2 linked regions of the Homo sapiens genome follow. The protein of the gene in region 2 purifies or fractionates together with the protein of the main gene of each other region. This does not show direct contact. Each region holds a gene or a part of one and is shown on either strand. Other genes may lie near its edges.

What was found. Proteins that work in one complex are often made in the same cells at the same time.
Region 1: the proteins of HEATR5A (region 2) and GTF2H3 fractionate together in Homo sapiens (co-fractionation; one large-scale study listed by BioGRID). This does not show direct contact.

The regions. Positions count from the first base shown.
Region 1 is NC_000012.12:123,640,174-123,644,015, forward strand, and holds part of GTF2H3 (general transcription factor IIH subunit 3), read left to right. Parts: intron 1-3,842. UniProt on the Homo sapiens protein: Component of the general transcription and DNA repair factor IIH (TFIIH) core complex, which is involved in general and transcription-coupled nucleotide excision repair (NER) of damaged DNA and, when complexed to CAK, in RNA transcription by RNA polymerase II.
Region 2 is NC_000014.9:31,291,551-31,295,392, forward strand, and holds the end of HEATR5A (HEAT repeat-containing protein 5A), read right to left. Parts: intron 2,555-3,842; coding exon 2,341-2,554; intron 2,063-2,340; coding exon 1,755-2,062; 3' UTR 238-1,754; downstream 1-237.

The sequences.
Region 1 (3,842 bases), on a different chromosome or scaffold from region 2:
GTTCGTTTGTAATCTGGTCCCACTCTCGACCACACCTTCTTTGCCTGTCTGTACTCCCAGGCAACTCTTGATCTCTTTGTGTCACTGTAGATTAGTTTGGATTTTCTAGATTTTTTTCATGTAAATGGAATCAAACAGGTTATAGTGGGGAGGTTTTTGTGGCCTTTTTTTTTTTTTTTTGAGACGGAGTTTTGCTCTTGTTGCCCAGGCTAGAGTGCAATGGCGCGATCTCGGCTCACTGCAACCTTTGCCTCCTGGGTTCAAGTGATTCTCCTTCCTCAGCCTTCCGAGTAGCTGGGATTACAGGCATCCGTCACCACGCCCAGCTAATTTTTTGTATTTTTAGTAGAGTTGGAGTTTCACCATGTTGGCCAGGCTGATCTCGAACTCCTAAACTCAGGTGATCTGCCTACCTCGGCCTCCCAAAGTACTGGGATTACAGGCATGAGCCACTGTGCCTGGCCTTGTCTGTTCTTTTTAATGACAGGTTAGCTGTTTTCCACTTTTAAATGGTTTAAAATAAAATCAGAAGAATAACATTTTTGTGACTTGAAAATTATATGAAATTCAAATTTCTGGGTCTATAAATAAGCCTCACTCATAAATTTATGTATTTTCTGTGGCAGCTTTTGCATTACAAAAGCAGAGGTGGGTAGCAATAAAGATTGCATGGCTCAAAAAGCCTAAAATATTTACTATCTGGCCCTTCACAAAACAAGTTTACTGACCTCTGGCCGATTGTGTGGTCTGTTCTGGAGAATGTTGCATGTCTACTTGAAAAGAATGTGCATTCTTTTGTTTCTAGTGAAGTGTTCTATAAATGTCTATTAGTTTAAGTTGCGTGATAGCGCACCTATAGTCCCAGCTACTTGAGGCGCTGAGGTGGGAGGATCACTGGTGCCCAGGCGGTTGAGTCTGCAGTGAGCCATAACTATGCCACTGCACTCCAGCCTGGGAGACAGAGCAAGACCCCGTCTCAAAAAATATAAAATAAAAAAATAAAAAAATTATCGAGAATGGAATATTGAAATGAAGTATTGTTGTTGAATTGTGTATTTCTTTTTTTTTTTTGAAATGGAGTTTCGCTCTGTCACCCAGGTCGGAGTGCAGTGGTGTGATCTCTGCTCACTGCAACCTCTGCCTCCCGGTTCAAGCGATTCTTCTGCCTCAGTCTCCCAAGTAGCTGGGACCACAGGCGTGTACCACCACGCCTGGCTAATTTTTGTATTGTTAGTAGAGACGGGGCTTCGCCATGTTGGCCAGGCTGATCTTGAACTCCTGACCTCAAGTGATCTGCCTGCCTCGACCTCCCAAAGTGCTGGGGTTACAGGCATGAGCCACGTGTCTGCCCCCGTTTTTTTTTTTGTGTGTTTTTTTTTTGAGACAGAGTCTCACTCTGTCACCCAGGCTGGATAGCAGTGCTAGGATTACAAGTGTGAGCCACCATGCCCATTTCCCCATATTTTGATAGCAGCAGTTAGTGTACTCACATTTAATATAATTATTAGTGTGGTTGCGTTCATATCTGCTATTTTGTTATTTGTTTTCTGTATGTATCATGAATTTTTTGGTTCTTTGTCCTCCTTTACTGTCTTTTGTGTTAAATAAATATTTTTTACGTACTATATTAATTCTTCTGTTGATTTGATTAATTCTTCTGTATATTTTTAGTTTTTTTGTTTGTTTGTTTGTTTTTTGAGATGGAGTTTTGCTCTTGTCGCCCAGGCTAGAGTGCAATGGCACGATCTCGGCTCCCTGCAACCTCCATCTCCCTGGTTCAAGCAATTCTCCTGCCTCAGCCTCCCGAGTAGCTGGGATCACAGGCGCGTGCCACCATACCTGGCTAATTTTTGTATTTTTGGTAGTGACAGGGTTTCACCATATTGGTCAGGCTGATCTCTAATTCCTGACCTCAAGTGATCCTCCCGCCTCGGCCTCCCAAAGTGCTAGGATTACAGGCATGAGCCACTGCACCCAGCCTTCAGTTATTTTCTTTTTCTTTTCTTTTTTTTTTTGAGACAGAGTCTAGTTTTGTCGCCCAGGCTGGAGTGCATTGACATGATTTTGGCTTACTGCAACCTCTCTCTCCCGAGTTCAAGCAATTCTCCTGCCTCAGCCTCCCGAGTAGCTGGTATTTCAGGCATGCACCACCACACCCAGCTAATTTTTGTATTTTCAGTAGAGACGGGGTTTCGCCGTGTTGGCCAGGCTGGTCTCGATCTCTTGACCTCGTGATCCGCCCACCTCAGCCTCCCAAAGTGTTGGGATTACAGGCATGAGCCACCACACCTGGTCAATCTCTTCTTACTTGTGATTCTATTTCCAAAAAAGATCATGTACACATGTACCAGAAGTTAGGACTTGAACATATCTTTTGGGGGGACATAATTCGACCCACAACAGTTGCTGTAGGGATTACTGTATGTATCTTATCATTGTGTACTTTAGATTAATACTCATTTAATTCCAGTAAAATATAGAGGCTTTGCTCCAATATAGATCCACTTCCACCCCTTCCCCATGTTCTTATTGTCATACATATTACACCTGCGCATGTTATAAATCTGATAACGCAGTGTTATAATTGTTACTTACACAGTTGCTTACACCAAGTATAAGCATCTTTTCTCTTGTTAACAAAAAATAAAAATATCAGACAATATTCATGTTAGAACTACACTCATTTTTCAGCTGAAACCATACTCTTTTTTCTTTTTTTGAGATGGCGTCTTGCTCTGTCGCCCAGGCTGGAGTGCAGTGGTGCAATCTCGGCTTACCGCAATCTCCACCTCCCGGGTTCAAGCAATTCTGCCTCAGCCTCCCGAGTAGCTGGGACTACAGGCACACGTCACCATGCCCAGCTAATTTTTTGTGTGTGTATTTTAGTAGAGATGGGGTTTCACCATGTTGCCCAGGCTGGTTGCAAACTCCTGAGCTCAGGCAGTCTGCCCGCCTTGGCCTCCCAAAGTGCTGGGATTACAGGTGTGAGCTACTACGCCCGGCCCAACCATACTCATTTTTCAATTAGCTATGGATACAAGAATTCAGCAAAAATCAACATAGGCATTCTGTGAGAATCCATTGACTTATGCAATTTACTATAAAGAGTATTGTGCATTTTACTGTTATTTGTAAATTGTGTGCTACATACTGCTGTATCAGTAATATTCGTATGTACTTGTGTACATGGGTACCTCGGTTTTGGGGAGCGAATGGTTAAACATCCGCCAGCACATCACTGCATGCTGCCCTGTTACTCCAGAAAGGCTGCGTTTGCACTCATCAGTGCTGTATGAGAGTTCCTTTTTTCTTGTACCAACACAAAATGTTCATTCTCCTTATTTCATCTTTTGTCAATATGAGGCAAAAAACAACGTAATCTCAATTTGCTTCCAGTGTATTTCGTGGCCATTTGTATTTCTCTCTTGGGACATCACCCACTTCTTTCTTTGGATATTCATAGTGTGTGGTTTTTTTTAAATTAATGATTTATGGACAGTCTTTTATATTAAAGGATTAACCCATTACTTGCCATGTGTTGCAACTGGTTTTTTCCAGTTTGTAACTTGTTTTCTTTCACTTTTATTTATATTGTCACTTTTCGCCAATTAGAAATTTTAATAGATTTAAGTTTTTTTTCCAGTAGGGTGAAATTTACCAGTGTGTTGGTCTATTTTTTGAGATGGAGTCTTTGTCACCCAGGCTAGAGTGCAGTGGCACGATCTCAGCTCACTGCAGCCTCCACCTCCTGGGCTCAAGCAGTCCTCCCACCTCAGCATCCCGAGAAGCTGGGACTGCAGGCACGTGCCAACACGCCCAGCTAATTTTTGTATTTTAAGTAG
Region 2 (3,842 bases):
AGGAGTGGGCAATCACCAGACAGAAGACAGGAGAGAAAAGGACATTTTAGGTAAAGGGAACAATAAATATACACTCAATGCCTAGAGACACTTAGGAAGAGACAGAGAATCTAAACCATCACAAATAATGCTCCAAAGAAAGGGCTCTTCTGAGAAAAAAGGCTGATTTTCTGGAATCCATGTGAGAGAAACCAACCTGCCATCTTTTGTTGGTAAAATAATTTAAAAATACAAGAATGATAATGAAAATTAGCTTTATTTATGTAATTTAGAAAAAATGATTGTAGTGTTAGAGTTTGTCAAATGTTTTCACTCTGAACAATTTACAATAGTATTTATATACAAACATAATAAAATAGGTACATCACATTGTTCTTGCTTCAAAATGTCTTCTCAATTCTGACATGCTTCTATCACTTCGGTTTGTAATTTTTAAGAGGGAAATGCTCTGTTTTGACACAGTGCTTGATTCACACAGTATAACACTGAAGTAGAAGGAGAATCAACAATCATGAACACAGTTAAAAAATATTTTTCAACCAATATGACTTTATCATTAATCTTTTTTCTATAATAAAATGTTTCCTGTTAAAAAAAATACTTGTATTCACCTGATGACCTAAATTTGTTGTACTAAATTTGGCATTTATATAAACCCATAGTTGATCTAAATACAATGTAGATATGAACCTAGGTTAAAACTCATTGATACAAATGTTTGCCACAAATGAAAATGAACAAAATTGGTAAGAACAGAGGTAAACAGAAAAATCCATTTGAAAAATAGTGGAAATGGCTTATTCTATTTAAAATGAGTAAGACTCAATTTCTGAACCCAATATAAACTAAACCAAAAGATGGTGGAAAACCATGATATAGACACCAAATCTTATGTTGCACTGTAAGGCTGTAAGTAATTTGTACTATTGTATACTGGATAATCCTAGACCAGGTTTCCTAAATAGCTCTCCAATCATTTTATCTTCTTGGAGAAATCAGAGAAAGTTTAATACAATTACTGAATAAGGCAGAATTTTTTTTTTTTTTTTTTAGATGGAGTCTCACTCTGTCGCCCAGGCTGGAGTGCAGTGGCACAATCTTGGCTCACTGCAACCTCTGCCTGCCAGGTTCAAGCGATTTTCCTGCCTCGGCCTCCTGAGTAGCTGGGATTACAGGTGTGTGCCACCACACCCGGCTAATTTTTGTATTTTTAGTAGAGACGGGGTTTCACCATGTTGGTCAGGCTGGTCTCAAACTCCCGACTTCGTGATCCGCCCGCCTTGGCCTTCCAAAGTGCTGGAATTACAGGGATGAGCCACTGTGCCGGGCCAAAGCAGAATTTTAAATCAGCAATTGGGATACAATATTAGTGCAGATAATTTACACTAGAGTCATATTTATATCTGTCACAGTATTAAGTATACCACATATGTATGGACTGTTAGAAGAAATTCATTTCATTTTTAAAGCAGTGGATTGTTTAGTAAGTTTAGTTCTTTAGCACTTTCTTAAAATTCCTGGCAAGTTAGCTCCATTGTCTTTTTAAATAGAAAAACAAAACAAAACAAAACACAAACCCCACGCACACACACAAAAATGTTAAGTATGCTGTTACTTTGAAGAGTCACAGCTATTTAAGGTAAAACAATCAACTAGACCTCTAAGGGCACTTGTGTCTACAATGTCCCTTTTGTCACCAAAGGCAATGATCAAGTATTTATTATATTAAGGTGCTTACTATTCCAAAAAAAAAATCAGAGGAAACTGGTCTTTAATTGGATGCTTGAGTTTTTTCCAGGACTCTTAGTATATTTAGATGTTGGTATCTTGACTTTGACACTTTCCTGATTGCCCTTTATAGCAGCCTCAAGGCGGGCTTTTAGGGCTGGAGAAGAAGCCACTAAACTTTTAAAAACAGATGAATACTGAGGTCCAATTTGCATGAGATTTTGTAGAGCAAAGTCATGTAAATTTCTCATTATGGAAGTTGCTGATCCCAGAGAATTTTCATCCAAAAGGAAGGAAATGAGGATGGGCAAAAGACAGGCCACCAGCTGAGCGCCTAGAAAGTAAACAAATAATATAAGTTCAGTGACATAAATGTTTCTAACAAAAGCCTGCAAATGCACTTGATCTGTATACATTTTTCCCCACTAAAGAAAACAATTCGTCCAATCTCTTCTAAATTAATACTAAATAATATCAATACTTGGGATTAACATAACACCTTTCAATGAATGTGAAATACAGATATAATGTGACTGATTGTTTTGCAATTTAAATAACAGTAAAATTCTGATTTTTGTTGAGACTGAGTATGAATTTAGTGCTGACACTTACGATGGTGTTCTTCAGCAACAGTAACCAGTGTTTCTAAGACCTTTATGCCTTCTTGGAAGATCTCAAGCTCAGCAGTGTTTTCAGGTTTTCTCTTGTCTATTTCCTGCAGTTTTTCCATGATACAGGATGCTAAAGAGTAAATGTATGGGTAGGAAACAGCTGGATTTGGATACTGAAAGATGGAATGTAGGAGCTGGTAGGTCTTGATTTGTACCTAATAAGGTAAGAGAAAAGAATAGCAAATACTATAAATAAATTTTTAAAAAGTCCCTGAGGACTCTTTGCTTTTTAAAGTAGTGAAGGTATTTAAATTTATTTCTAATTTGTGTTTAATTTTGAAAGTCCAAGGGCCAACAGGTAATCAAACATCTATGCTAACAGTGGTTGTGACAGTTTGGAATGGGAAAGAGGCATATAGGTAAACAGGGAAGCAAAGCTGAGTGTTAATTTTTCTTCTTTTCTCTAATTCCCATTTTCCCCCTCATGTCTTTCTCTATAATGTAAAAAACAAAAACACCACCAAAACCCCTCCTGTAACATTTTTTTTTTTTTTTGAGTGCCCAGGCTGGAGTGCAGTGGTGTGATCTCAGCTCACTGCAACCTCTGCCTCCTGTGTTCAAGTGATTCTCCTGTTTCAACCTCCCGAGTCGCTGGGACTACAGGCGTGCACCTCCACACCCAGCTAATTTTTTGTATTTTTAGTAGAGACGGGGTTTCACCTCGTTGGTCAGGCTGGTCTCGAACTCCTGACCTCAAGTGATCCACCTGCCTTGGCCTCCCGAAGTGCTGGGATTACAGACATGAGCCACCGTGCCCAACCTCCTAACATTTTTATGGGTAGAAAGCAAAACAAAACAAAACAAAAAAACACCCAAAACAAAACACATACAACCTTGAAAGATATTTTGTTGATTTCAGAAAATGTTTTAGACAAAAATGATGTATTTGATGTTCAAATGTCATGGTCTGAGTGTTTCAAGGAACGTCTGGACCATACTAATGTGTCATCAGGCATCAGAGTCCCGACTTGGAGACTGCTATACAAAGCTGCTGCAGGCAGCAGGCAACAGGACAGACGATAAAAGGAAATGACTATACATCAAAGATATAAATAAACTTTTATTGAGTTAACTGTAATGGTATTTTAATAATTATTTTTTCTGAGAGAAAATCTGGTTCCTGTATCTTCAGGAGTAGATATATGTGTGATCATTGGCTATGAACTCACCTAGAGGCACATAAAAAATAGGACATTACTCAAGCAAATGAAGGGGACATAAAAGAATGGGATAAATTTGTGTGTATTGCTTTTGGAATGGGTCCTGTTATTTCACATTCATATTACTGAAGGTATGTGCTGGAGTCTTTTTTTTGAGACAGCGTCTGGCTCTGTCATCCAGGCTGCGGTGCAGTGGCATGATCGTGGCTCACTGCAGCCTCAAGGTCCCAGGCTCGAGTGATCCTCCTGCCTCAGTCCCCCAGAGCAGCTGGGACTACAGGCC